Regions from separate parts of the Homo sapiens genome. Here region 2 is linked to region 1. Evidence: fine-mapped QTL for protein levels in blood plasma. A gene starts in region 1. The other region holds a variant in brackets. All regions are shown on one strand. Distances are from middle to middle. Region 1 holds the start of EHD3 (EH domain containing 3). Region 2 overlaps EHD3 (EH domain containing 3).

Region 1 (8,267 bases):
TCAGCCGCACCATGGCCCGGGCACGCGGCTAGGAGGGCCGGGAGCGCACTCTCCCTGCTCCTGGGACCAAGCCCAGCCGCTGCTGCATCCAGCAGCCCAGGCCGGAGGGAGGATAAATAATCTGGGCTTGAGGAGGAGGGGTGAAATCTTGGCAATTAAAGTTGAACCTGCAAGGAAACTGCCAGATGCCGGGGTCCCAAGCCGGGGTCCCCGATCGGCCCCCAGCCCTCGCCTGCTCTGCCCTGCGTGCAGCAAGGGATGCTTCGGCTCCGCTCCTGCCGGACCGAGGCGGCTCAGGGGAGACGGCGACGCTGCCCAGCCCGCGGACAGCTCTGCATCCGCAGCAGCATCCTGCAGCCCCAGGCGGTGGTTTAAATGCCAGCTGGGCAGGAAGCCGGCGCGCAGAGGAAGTCCCCTAGTACTGGCAAGGCAGGGCCGGCCCCACGGTTGCGGCGACGGGAAGCCGCGCAGGGCGCCGCCATGTTTGTGGGCAGGCGCTCAGCTCTAGACCTGCGGCCGCGCGGGGAGAGGGATGCTGACCCAGTCCAGTGGGAGAGTGCCGGTGTCTCAGTCTCCGCCTCTGGGGCTTCGATTTGGGAACAGCGCCCTCTCAGGGACGGCTGCGAGGACAGAGTTGACCTATTCATCACACTCCCTGCTTTGAATCGCCTCTCCTTCAGTTGCTGAGGTCAATTCCCTAGGAAAACAGGTACTCTAGTATTGGGGGATTTTTTTTTTTTTTGGCATAGAAAGGGGATCCACTATCAGGTTACACAAAATAACCAAAACTGTCACTACCCAAACTTTTAGCTAGGCTTAGGGTGAAGTCAAAATCGTTCCCATTTACTTATTCATTCATTCCAGCAAAACAAAACAAGCCAAGAAGCAAAATCCCTGCAAGTATTGGGAATTTATTATGGGGCAGTTACAATTTTGGTGACTGTGGATACAGAGATGAGTGCTGAACAGACTCTCCCTTCCAGGAACTCCAGTGAAGGCAGGCTTTAAAGAGGAGGCATGAGCAGAGGGTCATGGGAATACAGGGAGGAGTCACTCCTTTTGTGTGGCTAATTTGAGGAAGGCTTCATGGAAAGCATGACTGTAAGCTGGATCCTAAATGATGAATTGACATCCATTGTTCTAGGAGCGTAAGGAGTATTTGCAAAGGCTTGAGGAACTTGGTGTGTCCAAGGCAGAGTAAACAGTTTGGCATAGCTGGAGTGTAGGGTTTAGGAAGGTGAAAGAGAGTGAGGGAGGCCAAGCATGAAAGGCTTTGCCAGAGATGGGGAACCAATAGCAATGCTATTACTAATCATTGTTACATTAACAAAATGCTCAGCATGTGCAGGGGCCTGGGCTAAGTTCTCAGTGAACATTGCTTTATTTAACCTTCATGGCAGATCATATTATCTCCAGCATCATACTAAGGAGAGTGAGTGGGAACACTGTCCAGGTGTAGGCAAAAGCAGTGCATCGTGTGTAGAGAATTTAAACCCAATAATAAACTTGCTGAAAGTTGATGTGCTTTGTATTGGCACCATTCTAAACAGTGTAGTGATAAAACACTCCTCCCTGCCCAGGCTAATGACTCCCACTACCCTCCCTTCCACAGATGAAGAAGGAGTAGGCTATGGACCAGGCAGGAACTGGAATGCCAAGAGCAGTGTTGGAGGGGCAAAAGAGGTTGGGGGTTGATATGGTTTTGCTTTGTGTCCCCGCATAAATCTCATCTCTAATTGTAATCCCCATAATCCCCATGCGTTTAGGGAGAGAGCTGGTGGGAGGAGATTGGATCATAGGGACAGTTTCATTCATGCTGTTCTCATGATAGTGAGTGAGTTCTCGTGAGAGCTGATGGTTTTATAAGGGGCTCTTCCCACTTGGTTCCTCATACTTCTCTCTCCTGCCGCCTTATGAAGGACGTGTTTGCTTCCCTTTATGCCATGACTGTAAGTTTCCTGAGGCCTCTCTAGGCATGCAGAACTGTGAGTTAATTAAACCTTTTTCCTTTATAAATTACCCAGTCTTAGGTATTTCTTCACAGCAGTGTGAAAACAGACGAATACAGAGGCCAAGAGACCATTTAGGAAACTATTCCAAAACTTAGGAGACAGCTGCAATGGGATTGGAGAAGAGGTCAGACTCAAAAGATTTTTTTCATGGAATAGAATTGTCAGATCTTGGTATGTGATAAAAAAAAGAGGACATAAGGGTGAGGCACAGTCTAGGATGATTTTGAATTTTCTACCATAGGGGATAAGATCATTGGAGAAGCTCTTCCACTAATTAGGGGAGGCAGAGAGAGAGCTGATTTAGCAGACAGAGATAATGTGTTCAATCTAAAACGTGTTGCGTTTGAAGTGCCTGCAGGAGCTTCAAGAGGAGTGTGGTGAAGCTGCAGGGATTTCAGGGGAGGGGGGATTATCAGAGGCCAGTGCTGAATAGAATCTCCTTAGTTACATCTCAGATCTCCCGACTCCCTCCTTGAACCCCAAAACTGATCATCTCTTGTTGAGAATTCACTCAGATTAATATTTCACCCTTGGTGTTTAGCTACTACCAACATACGAACCTAAGGAGTAATATTAAAGATATTTAACAACTCACAAGGCATGAGAATCAAACACCCGGAACAGACACTGGCCTTCCTAGTGGAGCAAGGCTTGCGGCCCCGTGCCACGCCTGGTGTTAATACAGTGGCGTCTGGACCTTGGAGAGATCTGAGCCTGTCCCCGGAGAGAGGTCAGTATGGCCAGCGTGACAGGAAAGAAATCAAGGGGCCCCATTATGGAAGTATTTCAAGAATTTTGTAATCAGTACGGCCATGCCATTGTCTACTGCTGAATGTCTGTTCCGAATATCTAATTTACCAAGTGCGTGTTGACACATCTACTCCCGTCTCAGTCTTGAGTAGTTGAAATCTATCTGTTTAAAAAAGGAACTAATGGAGCATTTCTATAGACTAGCAATAAAAGGTCATGAAAGATAATATTCAAAAAAGATACTGTGTTCAAAAGAACAAAAACTTACGGATAAATCTGACAAAAGATATGCAAGATCTTTATGTGAAAAATAATAAAACTTTATAGAAAGATGTTAAAGAAGTTCTAAGTAAATGGGAGAGACATGCCATGTTCCATTGTGGAAGGATTCCTTGTCACAAACATGTGAATTCTTTACAACATGATTGATAAATTCAATAATTGAGAGATATGATTGAAATCAAAATCTAAATAAGGTTTTCCATGGAAATTGACAAGGTGATTCTAAAATGTATAACTTATAGAGCAATAGTAAAAAAAAGCTTAGATATTCCAGGAGAAGAAAGAAGATAAGAAGAATAAGGAGGAGGAGAGGGAGAGGTGGAAGGGGAAGGAGGGCAGAAAAAGGAGAACAGAGAAGAGAAGAGGACAACAGTAACATAGCAATGGCAACAACTAAGCGAAGAGGACTTGCCCTAGTGGACATTGTTATGGAGTTACAGTGGTTAATATGGTTTTGGCACAGAGACCAACAGAATAACAACACAGTAAATAGCCAGGAAATTTGGAAGCCTGACATATACAGAAGTTGCAATAGAGATTGCATATATATCACCACAAAGTCAGGAAGAGTTCTTTAAACAAGACGTCAGAAGCACAAACTGAAAAATGAAAAAAACTAAGTTTAGCACTAGCAAAATTTAAAACTTTCGTTCAACTAAAAATACAAAAGTGAGTGAAAAGATATTTCCTATACACAAAAACCCATGAAAGCACATCCAGAATATAGAACTAATGGCTGTGCATCGATAACAAAGACAAACATTCCAATAGAAAAAAACTTGGCAAGAGCTACAAAAATGTCTTTTACAAGAGGCTACATGAATGCCCTATAAACGCAAGAAAACATGTTGCATCTCATTAGTAATTAGAGAAATGCCAAACCACACTAACACTCCATACCCACCAAAATGGCAAGAATAAAAAGTTGGATGGTAGGGTTGGTGAGGATGTAGAGCAATGGGAGCTCTCATAAAATGCTGATGGGCGTGCAGGCTGGCACAAATACTTTGGGAAACAGTTTGGCATTGCTTAGTGAAGCTGAAGATGTGCATGTCCTATGACCTATCTCCTTCCATTCTATTTCAAGGCGTGATCTAGAGAAACTCTTGCACATGTGCATAGGGAGATAAGTCTTAAGAATGTTGATGGCAACATTATTTGTAGCAGCAAAAATTTATAAACAACTAAATGTCCTTCACCGAGTAAATGGATAAATGTGCCACATTCATATAAAATATATACCACACTGGGGTCTAGTTGAGGGTGGAGGGTGGGAGGAAGGAGAGGAACAAAAAGCAAGAACTATTGGTTACTAGACTTAACACCTGGGTGATGAAATCATCTGTACAACAGACCTCCATGACACTAGTTTACCTATATAACAAACCTTCACATGTACCCCCGAACCTAAAATGAAAGTTACAAAAAATACATACTCTACAGATGAGAAAAATGAGGGAAGTGGTGCTACCTATGCCAAAATATGGTGTTGAGTGAATAAAGCCAGAAGTAGGCTATTATGCATAGAATCATACAATTTCATTAATGTTTCAGGTCATGCAAAAACCACTATCTGTTGTTCATGGATGCATATGTGTGCATTGAAGTTTTTAAAAAGAGAAGCAAAGGAACATAAAACACTAGTCAGGAATGGGGTGTTCTCTGGGACAAAAAAGGGAAATGGAATTGGGGATGGGTACACAGGGAGCTTCAGCTATATACTATATATACACTGTTTTCTTTCTTTTTCTTTTCCTTTTTTTTTTTTTTTTTTTTGGACATAGGGTCTTGCTCTGTCACCCAGGCTGGAGTGCAGTGGCGCCATCTTGGCCTACTGCAACCTCTACTTCCTGGGTTCAAGAGATTCTCAGCCTGCCTCAGCCTCGCAAGTAGCTGGGACTACAGGCATGAGCCACCACACCTGGCTAATTTTTGTATTTTTAGTAGAGATGGAGTTTCACCATGTTGGCCAGGCTATTATTCCTCAAATTTGATAGTGAATACTTGGCTGTTCATTTCTTATTCCTTTTATCCTTTATTTTAAAAAAAATCTGGTCCTTGGATGCACAAAGTTGGAATTTTTTTCATAACTGTGGTTCAAGACAAACTACACCTGGCTCCTTTATTATATTTTTAAAAAACTTAACACATGTTTTTGTAATGGACCCTTGATGAACCTATCATTCAAACCAAGGACTAGAAAAATTAGCAGCAATTTACATCTACTTATGTGCTCCTCCCCATCCTGTCTCCTGCCCCTTCTCCTTCTTTCTAGAGGGGACCCCTATCCTGAATCTACTGTGTGTTGTCCCCTTGCTTTTTAATTACGGTTATACACAAATGCAAGCCAAAAGAACATATTGTTGAAGTTTAGTGTTTTTGGACTTTTTCTAAAAAGCATATCCTGCTGCATGTAATGCCCCTGGAACTCGACTTTTCTTGCATTCAACATTTGTTTTCAGCCCCATCTGGCTCCACAGGGCCCTCTCCCACCAGGTGTCTCTTCCAAACCCAGCACATGCCTCCTATTTCTGTCACCTGCCAGGTGCATGGGGGTTCCCAGTCAGACAACCTGCAGTAGATGGAGTCCTGGTGTCCCCGTGTCTTTGCTGTGTGAGCTTGGGGAAAGTGGCTTCACTCTCAAGCCTTAGCACCCTGGTCTCTGAAATAAAGATGGCAATAGCATTTTTTCAGGATTAAAGGGACCGTGCATGTAAAGTGCCATTGAAAGTGTTCAGTATGTATTAGTTCTTAATATTATAATGATTATTACTTTTATCCACTACATGGCACTGCCTTATATCCTATTTAAGAAGCTGTTTAATAAACTATTGAATAAGCTTAGTATTTAATAGCTGTAATATTTAATAAGCTATTTAATATGCTGGCACCTAATAAGTTAGTGAGCAACTTCTTTCACTTCATTTGTGTCTTAACTGAGGATGGCTCATTGACTCAAAGGAATATAATTTTTAGTAGTGATATCTGTGGTGTTTGCTCTGGGTTCTTAGGGGTGACACTATGAAACAGAAGACTTTTCCATCTCTTCTGTTTCTCCCACTCAGATACTAACTCAGGCCGAACCCTCCTTAGCTTCCAAGATCAGATGAGATCGGGTGCATTCAGGGTGGTGTGGATACAGACACTTCCCTTTCTCATCCACAACACCAGAGTCTGGCCAGAAGTAAAGGGAGAAGATGGAAACTGTAGCAGCAACCTGGAATACAAGTTTGAGCCCTGGCTAGGGGAGTTAGAAGAATTGGGAAGTGGGACCAAGTGTCCATAATCTTAGGAATCTATGGCCCCTTTCAACCTGGCCCAACTACCATTGCATCCTGGTGACCTGCCTACAACCATGCACGCATGCGTGCCTCCCACAGCTGCTTCCTGCTCCTCACCACGCGGGCTCCTTTGCACACCCTGTCTTCAGCCTCAGTCTTCCCTTCCCCACCCTCTGCCTGGTGGGCACCCACTCATACCTTAAGGCTCAGTGTGGTGGTCCGCCCTCTGAAGAGCTGAGTCAGCAGCTCTCCCATAAGAAGGCTGTGCCCCTCTCCCCACTTCCAAGCTACCCCACGTAAACCTCTGTTACCGCATTCATCACATGTTACTATAATTACATGTTTAAATTGTTTGCCTTCCAACTAGACAGGGCACGTCTTCAGCCTGACGCAGTGCTGTACTCATTCTGTTTACTTCAGTTGGAGGCGAAAGTGCATCAGCTCAGCCAATTCCTACTGATGAGATCAGGCCGAGTTAAAACCTCTTTTTATGACAAGGTCCTCATCAGTGAAACCAGGGTAAGAGAAACACCAAAGGCAGAAAAGTGCCAATGACGCTTCACAATGTTGTTGTGGGGATAAAATGAAACAATGTAGGTCAAGGACCTGATACGTTTTTATAAGTCTATAGTAAGCGCTCAATAAATAGTTCCCTTTCCCCTTGGATGAATGAGTACTGAACGTGCACAAGGAAAGGGAAGTCTAGAATAAAAATACACAGGTGAGGGAACTGTGCTTAGGAAGTTTATAAGCCAAAAAGGAGATGAAGAAAGAGGGTCTGTCTGAGTCTAGTTGATGGGCTGTCCAGGAATAACACTCCCCATTCATACCATCGGTACCACAGCTACTTAATTGCTGGAATGCGGCTGTCTCATACATAGCAGCTCTCCTTGGCAGAAAGTCAGTTTCATCCCTGGGTGCAGCAGGAGCAGAGCTAACCTGAGAAATCCAATATTACACGGAGGAAAGCCCACACCACGAGAGGCAGCGGTGTGTATCTGGTTTTAATAAGATGCCTGCTTCTAAGAACCTCAACTTCCAAAGGCAAGACATTTGCTACCTGCAAGATGTGAGCTATAATTCGAAAATCTCCTAATTATGGTCAGTGTCTGCTTTTGTAGCACAGGTGTTTCCAGAGCGTGGGCATCTAGTCCTCATGGCAATCCTGAAGAGGAAGATAGGGATGTTTCCCAGAGGGAAACTCAGGTGCAGAGAGGTAGGAAACTGCCCACACAGGCATCTTTGATTGAGCTATCTATCATCCTACTCACTTTCCCCTCAGTCCACAAAAAGTGGGAGGCAGCTTACCGAAATCCCTTGAATTCTAAAAAATAAATGAACCCTTGAGGCAGCTGATATGAGGGGAATGGGCAGGTGAATGGTACAGAAATATCAGAGGGAGATGAGCAGGAGGCCCCCAGAGGTGAGCAGCCATCACACTGGGCTCTGAGCTGCTTGATCAGTGCAAAAACAGAAACAAGTTATTAGTTCCAAACCCAAATATATCTGTCTGTCCCTGCCAGCAGGATCTTGATTGCACCATCCCACTCAACAGCCTCGCTTGGGTAAGGGAAACACCAAAAGCAGAAAAATCCATGCTGAAGGACCCCAGGACCAGCACCAGTTCCTGAGCATCTTTCCCGGGCTGTAAGTGTTGTTTACATGTCTGTCTCTTTGCCAGGGGAGATAGAGGAAGCACCTTGAGGAGAAAAGCTCTCTTTTAACCCTGCACAGGGCTGGTGCAGGCACTGAAGTTGACTCATTCCTGATGTGGCTTTTGACAAGCAAACAAAGATTAGAAATGTGAATTACCTGTAGTTGGCCAATTATTATAACCTTATATGTTATAACAGATAAGTCTATGACTACAAAAATGTCTGTGAGCACAGAGAACCTGATAAAGGCAGAACCTATGAGCGTGGGATATTTAAAAATACACAGG
Region 2 (8,329 bases), 28 kb before region 1:
CCACTGGCCCAAGATAGGCACCTGCAATAGGACCCAAAGATGACGAGTTCCCGTGTGCACTTCTGCCTCCCCGAAGCTCGTGTCCCAGATTGCTCACAAGGGGGACCTCAGATGTAAACTCGAGCACTTTAAGAGCCTGGAGAACCTTGGTCAGGTGACCCATCCCACTGCACCAGAGATGGTGGGGACGTCAAGCCTGTGGTGGCTGTGACTAGAGAAGGTCATTAACTGGAGGTGTCAGCCCCCCAGCATCATCTAACACACCTGCACCACTGGGGCGGTGGGCTCCGTGTTTCTCCCCAGGCCCAGACATGGCCCCTGTTGGGCCAGTGATGGCCCAGCTAGGAGTGTAGATCCAGGGCCACCTCCTTGCCTGCAGATTCTGGGCGGGGTTCTCCCTGGGGGGCTCCAAGAGTGGCCTCCTCCATACTCAGGCTGCTCAGCCAGCTCTCGGGACACTGTCCCTTGTCTTAGAGACCCCAGCCCTCGCTACCTGCATCCTCTTCAGATTGGGGAAGTCCCCAGGTGAGATCTGGTGCTCCCGCTCGATCCGGCCATAGATCTCGGCCAGGTTGTTGACCAGCTCCTTCTTCTTGTTGTCCTTCCCGAACACCGAGGGCATCTCCTTCTTCAGAGAGCTGATGATGTAGGCGTGGACCTGACAAACAGGGCCAGAGAGAAGCCTTCACATCAAGACCCTGGACGGTCCCTTCCTTCTAGGATGGCTCTTGCATCATTCCTTCCCCTACATCCCTCCCGCCTCCTCCTGCTCCTACTTTTGAAATAATTTCTACCTCTACCCTCATGGCTCCATGTTGCTTGCAGGGCTGGGCTGTTTTTCTATGTTATGTGGGCAAGGTGAGGTTGTGGGGAGCTATGGTCAAGGCAGGGTGAGGTGGTCATGTTGCTGCTGCTGAAGGCAATACCAGCAGCTGACAGTTGCTGAGCATCTCTGAAGGTGCCAGACACTGTGATGAGGGCTTTGAGACTCTTTATTTCACTTTATCCTCCAACAACCCCTTCATTTTACAGATGCAAACAGAGGCACAGAGAGACTAAAGGCCTTGCCAAGGCTGGGAATCCCACAGACAGTAAACAATGGAGTCAGTTCCAATCTGGCCATCTGACCTGAGAGCTTGTAACCATGGCTCCCGCACTGTCCTGCCCCTTGGTGTCACACACATGATGCACTGGCTGTTGGAGGCAGCAACCCTCAGCTCGTGCAGCTGACCCCAAACTCTGGGCCCCTGCCCAAGCTGCCCACCTCCCAGGGGGCTGCCTCACCTTGGCCAGCCTGGCCCTTTTGATGAGGTCGTTGAGCTTGCGCAGGGCAGCATTTCGGGGCAGACTCTGGATGTCCCTGAATAGGTCCTGTTCCTCAGCCTCAAAGAGCTTCCGGTTGTCAGGGATGAGGAGGGGGTGGGACCAGAAGGAGCCGATGTAGACCCGGATCACCTCTGGGGTGTTCACGATCTTCCCCAAGGACCACATGAGGGCCCCGTACACCCGCATCAGCTGCTGCGTCTCGATCTGGTCAGCTTTGTTCAGCACCACTCGCATCTTGTCCTCGTGGTTCTTGAGGGCTTTGATGACTTCTGAGAACTCATCAGAGATGTCCAGTTTGTGGGCATCGAAGAGCAGAATGATGCGGTCAACCCGCTCGGCAAACCACTCAAGGACAGCTGCAAAGTCATACCCTGCCGGCAGAGGGACAATCAGGGGCTGGGGCCTTTGGGGTATAGGGTAGGGGTTTGGAGAAGCAGTCGGGTGTGGTAGAAATAACACAGTCTTGGGAGTCAGATCTAAGTTTAAATCCTGGCTCCTCCACATTTTAACTGTTTGGACTCCAGCAAATTACTCAATGTCTCATAGAATTTTTTTCGTCTAAAAATACTGTTAAATACTAAAATAATATGAATACCTAGTTAATAGAACTATGAAGATTAAATACTCTTAGAATCCGGCACTTAGTAGGTGCTCAGTAAATGCTAGTTACTTTTTTTTTTGAGACGGAGTCTTGCTCTCTCACCCAGGCTGGAGTGTAGTGGCACTGCCTCTGCTCACTGCAACCTCTGCCTCCTGGGGTCAAGTGATTTTCCTGCCTCAGCCTCCCGAGTAGCTGGGATTACAGGCATGCGCCACCATGCCCGTCTAATTTTTGTGTTTTTAGTAGAGACAGGTTTAACCATGTTAGCCAGGCTGAGTCTTGAACTCCTGACCTCAGGTGATGCGCCTGCCTTGGCCTCCCAAAGTGCTGGGATTATAGGTGTGAGCCACCGCCCCCAGCCAGCCACTGCGCCTGGCCTAGTAACTCTTATTAACGTCATTATTTCCATACCAGCTCCCCTATCCGTGCTTACTGTATTTAGCAGCCCGCTGGAAAAGAAAGTCTGGACACCTAATCTGACACAAAGACCCAGAAATTCTTTCTAAGGTCTGAAAACAATGAAACACTAAAAAGTAGATACTGATGATGGTTCAGACCATGCCTGTCACTGGTCTGGAAGAAATCTGCAATTCTTGTTATAAAAACATCTTGTTCTCACTCAGGCTCTTTCCTTTGTAATCAGCTGCAGCACAAAATTCCCAACTCTTGAAACCACAAGGGGTTTCTTCCTTAGGATGTGACTGGAACTCTGGCCACCCGCATCTTGGTTATCTAGCACTAAGCTGCTTTAGGTCAGACTGGTTACAGGAGCCCCAGAGAAGTTGTTCTGCTCAATCCCAAGTAGCTGTGGATCCAGTAGGAGCTGAAGTAGGAGGGTGGACCAATAGTCTATACATTCACTGACACCCAGAGCCCCAGTAGGTCTTACCTCTGTGTCTCAGGCTCCTCTTACATAAAATAGGAAGACAAGAGATAAGGAAGTGGGGCTCAGAGAAGTCAAGTGATTTGTCGAAGGGCACACAGCCCATGAGCAGCAGCAGTCGCATGAAGATGGAGGTGTTAGGCTTTCCCATTCTGAGTCTGAGCAGGGTTCTCAGCCTCTCCTCCTGCCACTCCCCCGTGGCATACCTCTGGCACCAAGGTAGGAGCCCTTTCTTGGGTACTAAAGTGACCAACCATCCTGGCTCCCCATAGCACAAGGGTTCCAAGGTGACACACACTGGGGACCCAAAGCTCATTGCCACCATCGAATGGGAAACCAAATCATTAGGAAAAAGCCTGCCCTGCCTCACAGAGGGAGGCTAGAGACCAGGCAAGATCATCAGGCAACTGCCTTGTGAGTGAGTCAGACTTAAGAAGCTCTGACTGTCTTTAACAGGGGTCCTGACTTAGCCTCCATCAGAATCCCCCCAGGGCTTCTTAAAACCCAGATGGTTGGACTCTATCCCCAAAGTTTCTGATTCAGTAGGTCTGGCGCAGAGCATTTCTAACAAGCTCCCAGGAGATTCTGATGCTGTTGGTCCAAGGGCCACACTTTGAATACCACTGGCCCATAAAAATAACAATAGCATTCAAAAGGTGTTCAGCACTGACCTAAGTACTTTATAATCATTCATTCCTTTAATCCTCACGATGACTCTGTGTAGGGTCATTAGACACTAATATCAGCCCCACTTCTCTGAGGAGTAACCAGAGATACAAACAGATAAAGGAACTTGTCTAAGGTCACCCAGCTGGTAAGCAATGGGCTGGGACTCAAGTCCAGGAAGGTAGCCCTGGAGTCAGTGCTATGAACCACTGCACCGAGTTGGCTTTCACTTTCAAAGGCTGTCATTTCAGACTAAGTAGCAGGCATCGATGGGGTGGGGGATGAGGATGAATGGAGCCAACGGAGCTAGGTTTAAAAAGCCTTTCCCCCACCCTGTGGCATCTAGTGAACACCCAGTGGGGTACATATTTAGGACGTGTGGAGGCACTGCCACAGGGGGTAGGGGGATGGGATCAGACGGTCGGGAAAACTTGCTGCCCTAAAGCTTCCTGGAGGACCCCTGTAATGTTTCCCTGGTGGCTGTAAGAGAATTCTAACAAACAAAGGAAGGTCAAACCCTCCTTTGGTTACCCGGATGCCAGTACTACTCCATTTTCAGCTCCTCTGTCTTTGGTAAATGAAGTGCTTCCAAGCATTCCCATTGCCATGTGATTTTCTCCAAGATCTGT[C/T]AGCTGCTCAATGAATATACAGCTCAACTAACACCTGAGCCTTCTCCCCCTGCTCCTGTGGCGTAGACCTATGAGGCTACGAGGAGCTTAGCCATCAATGGTCCAACTTCCTGATTTACAGATAGGGAAACTGAGGCTCAGGAAGGGGCAGAGCTGGCCCAGTATCTCCAGGTGCCATCCTGAGGATAGTTCCTGATGGGTGCGTCATCGAGGGCCTGGTGTGAACTAGATTTTGCCTTCTCTTTTGAACACAGGTGTCCTGTCTCGGCTCAGAGACAAGGCCCAGGAAAGTGCTTCAGAGGCTGCTCTGCCCAGTGGGCAGGGGCATCATCAACCCTCCCTCGGAGATGTTCACGCAAACTCTAGGAGTTAAGTGACTCAGCCAATACCACCCATGAGACACGACCCCTAGCCTCCAACTCGAAGTTCAGTGCTTGCTGCAGACGGTAAGATGTTCATGTCATTATCTCATGTCACCCTCACGACACGCTCTGAGGCAGGCAGCGCGAGGAGTATCGTTCTCACTTCCAGGGGAGGAAACTGAGGTTCAGAGAGGAGAGAGTCAAACAGTTGGCAAGTCGTGAGGCCAGATGACCCAGCTGTCAGCCATCCAGCCGTTCTGCACCTGGCCGCTCCCTGCCTCCCTCCCTCCCTCCCTGGCACGCAGGCACAGCCAGCTCCTCACTGGAGCCCGGGAAGCCTAAGCATTCCCACTTCAGGTGAAGCCTGCAGCCCGCACTACTCCCCTCCTTCCTACATCCCTCTGTCCATCCTTCCCTTCCCAGGGATGGCTCCAGCCTATTTTTATCTTCCCTTCAGCACAGCGCATGGCAAGGCTGCTGTCACCTCCCAAAGGCAGTCCCTCAGAGCTGTGGGTAGGGAGGGGCCAGAGGGCTAAGAAAATCCCCAACCCCCACCTCTGCAAACAGCTCACAGCAGGAGGGCAGTAGGGACCCTCCACAACTCCCTGCCAGGCCTCTGGCCTTCTGCTGCTCCTTATTCCCCAATCTGGATTTTAGCTGTGCCAGTGCAGGCCACAGGAGGGGCTGCTGGGAGGACCAAGACTGGGCTGCAGCTCCCTCTCACCTGTCCAGCAAATCTCAGCCCCAATATATTGGCTCAATGGCTCAGAACAGGCTAAGGCAGCCAGGGCAGCCAGTGTTGAGTCCTATGCTGACAAGGTAATGGAGGTTTATAGAGGGTGAGAGAAAGGCCCAAGGCCATGCAATGCTGGGGGTCAGAGCCAAGACCTGAACTCCAAACTCAACTCTTGCACTGTAGCCACGCCTCCACCAGGCTGGGGAAAACAAAGACACCAGAGAAGCTGCAGAGAAGGGAAGAGGCTCTGTCCCTGCAACTTGCTGCAATCCCTGATGACACCAGCGATGTAAGAGAAGGCTGTGTCTGCAAAGGCTGAGGGGCAGCAATATGTCCATGCTGCCAGAACAGGATAGACCCCTGCCTATCCCTGTCCCTGCCCTCAGTGGTCTTGTAGCATCATGCACGCTCCTGTTCTGCTCTTCAGCTCACTGAAATCATCCTCGGTGCACTGGGAGCTGGACAGGGCAGGGGCAGCACCTCACCCTTCTGGGCTTCCCCTGCACCCAGCACGGTGTGTGGCACACAGCAGGTGCACTATCAGTATTTGCTGAACGGAAGTGAAACGTGGAAAACGTGGAAACCTGTTCCACGTTTGGCATCTGGGAGACAGTAAATGAGTAATCTCTGGGCCTCAGTTTTATGGTTGAGGAATCAGTGACTCAGTCGTAGGGTTATTGTGAGGATCTAAACAAATCAGAGGATGCAGGTGAAACTGCTGAGCTGTGACCTTGGCTGTTCTCATTGCCCTGCTGTTTTTTGTAAAGCACTCCTTTTAAGCCCTAGTTTCTATGAGATGGGATGTGCTCTGTAGGAGTCACCAGAGGAGCACTGGCCTGGGTGAGTCCACCTCTCGTTTCCGCTTAGCCACTAACTTACTGTGTGTCCTTGGGCAAGAATCTCCCCTCTCTAGTCCTCTGTCTCTTTGCCTGTCAAATCAGGGGATTGAGCTGGACAACCTCCGAGCTTCCTTTCTCGGTTCACAATTCTCTGCATCTGAGACCAGAGGTGTGAGGGTGGGGAGTACAACAGGATGGATGGAGATTAGCTACAAGGGACCCTTTGCAGGCACAGCAAGAGAGAGAGGCTGCAGGCTGCTGTCTTACAGGCCTCGGGGATGCCTGTGTGAAGTCTGCCTCTGCCTGAGGACAGGCCAAGGGCTTCTGGGAACTCTTTCCGTGATTTTATAAGCAGAGGCCTCCTATTTGCTCTGGAAAGCTGCTATCCAATTACAGACTCAGTAATGCCAGAAGCTTCCAGCCAGGTGTGGCTGTGAAGACCATGACCATCAAGCAATGACTCCATGGGTTGCTCTGAAGCTCGACTTCCCTGCTCCTGGCTAACCCCGAGGCTGTGTCATCTGTAGGGTGGATATTTAGTTGTTCACTTGGCCTGGACTTAGGTGCAGATCTAGGAATGGCGGTATCTCAAAGGTATGGACTGGACCCAGTAAGAAAAAGGGTATGGTATAGGATTAGCTTTCTCATTTATTTGGCAAATCTGAACCTCAATTTTCTCAGCTGCAAAATAGGGATAACAAATGACTGAATGAGGGGTCTGTGGTAGAGCTGAATGAGGACTCTGTGGTAGAGCTGTGGCAACAAGATCTGACAGCACAGACTGCCTCAGCAGCTGCGGTGAGTGCTATGGCCAGTGACAGGCCCCCTTCCCCTCTCTGGTCCCAGCGATGGCTCTGAGACCCACAACGGTAGCTCTTGGGCACCTGCGGCAGCCCAAGTGTTCATGAAATATGGACTAGTGAGTCGGGGGAGATTCAAGCCCCAAGAGACAGAGCAGAGAAGCTGCCCTTCCTGGACTTCATAGCACAAGTCTGCTGGCTCTAAGAGGTCTAGTCAGCCAGCTCCGGGCCTGGAGACTGGGCAGCCTGCAGGGATCTATGGTCCCCTCCAACCGGAGGCTCCAGATGACTGGAAAGAAAGCACTTTGAAGTAATGCCAGGCAAGAGGAAATCAATCAGACAAACACAGTAAGGAAAGCCACCCCTTCCTCACCCGCCGGCTTCCATCATGGCCTGGCATGCAGTGCCTGGGCCCTCACAGGGCAGCATACTTCTTCGGGTTTCCAGCCACGTGACCTCATTCGCTCTTCATAATTCTCTGTATCCCAGGAGGTAAGTAGGGCATACACATCTTACAGGACAGGGAATCTGGACACAAAGAGATTAAGGGGCTTGCCCAAGCTCACACAGCCAGGTGGTGGCAAACTCAGGCCTGGAACCCAGCTCCTTGACTTGCAGCCCACATTCTCTTTCTATAACAGCTCACAGCCATGTGAGCCTGAAGCTCAGAGGCTGAGCCCTCAAACCAGGCACTTACTTGCGGTGGGTACATACAAAACCCCATCCCTCCCCAAAAAAATCTCCGTCAAGATTTAAAGGCATTTGAGCAAAAGAGGAATAACAAGGCATCAATTTCCAAAATGTGGGAAGAGTTTGGCTGACAACGGGGAAGAAATGCCACATTAGATGCTTCCCAGAAGTAACGGCAAAGAGCGGCCCGAGCAGATGGTTGGCAAGGCCTTTTGAAGGGCGTCAGGACTCGGCTGCTCTGCCCAGGCACAGGAGCGCCCACACAGGCGTGCCTGTACCGGCACGTAGTCTGGGAAGACCCAGAGGCCTTTAAGTGCAGGCTCTGCTCCAATGAGGGTGCCCTGGATGGGCTAGGAATGTGAGGCTGCAAGGATCAGCCCAGACCTGCCAAGGTCTGAGCCCTAAAGACCCCTAGAGGAAACCTGGAGATGAGAGGTTTGCCCTCATTCCTACCCCCTGTGCTCTTCCGGGGCAGGTGATGATAATGTGCTGAGAAGCCGTGGACCAGGAATAGGAAGACCCGAGTTCCCTAGATGTGTGATCCGGGCAAATTTTCAACCTGCTCTGGCCTTACTGAGCTCACCTGTGCAGAAAGGGGCCTGTGGGGAGGAGCTTCAAGCTGTGCAGTCTGTGATGTGAGCACAAAGCCCCGCCCTGCTTTCCTAAGGTGGCGCCTATGGGGATTTCTAGCTGGGAAGCAGCCAGGAAATGTGGTTCCTAAGCTCAGGACACTCAGCCTTCTGGAGCCCTCCCACTCCTGCTGCATCCTCACTTCTTCCCAGTAATGAGCCAGGCTG

The links. A credible set is the group of variants that fine-mapping cannot tell apart. PIP is the chance, under the fine-mapping model, that this variant and not a neighbour inherited with it causes the effect. Protein levels are from antibody-based Olink assays in UK Biobank. Linkage for the fine-mapping came from a reference panel and not from the study's own genotypes, which makes the PIPs less certain.
Region 2: its variant is the best candidate, but not a certain one, in a credible set for the plasma level of the EHD3 protein (UK Biobank, PIP 0.53).

Annotation. Positions count from the first base shown.
Region 1 is chr2:31,226,233-31,234,499 of GRCh38, reverse strand. EHD3 (EH domain containing 3) reads right to left here and starts at 348. Exons shown (of 6, transcript NM_014600.3): 1 at 1-348. It also overlaps a transcript of CAPN14 not described here and the pseudogene RNA5SP90.
Region 2 is chr2:31,253,878-31,262,206 of GRCh38, reverse strand. EHD3 (EH domain containing 3) reads right to left here. Exons shown (of 6, transcript NM_014600.3): 4 at 1,285-1,697; 5 at 494-658. It overlaps LOC124905983 (a long non-coding RNA gene), which reads left to right. Exons shown (of 4, transcript XR_007086270.1): 2 at 4,360-4,551. Among named protein-coding and RNA genes, the nearest start is that of EHD3, 24 kb to the right of the region's middle. RefSeq lists enhancers at 5,038-5,087, 5,173-6,000. The variant C/T (reference allele first, on the strand shown) is at 4,106.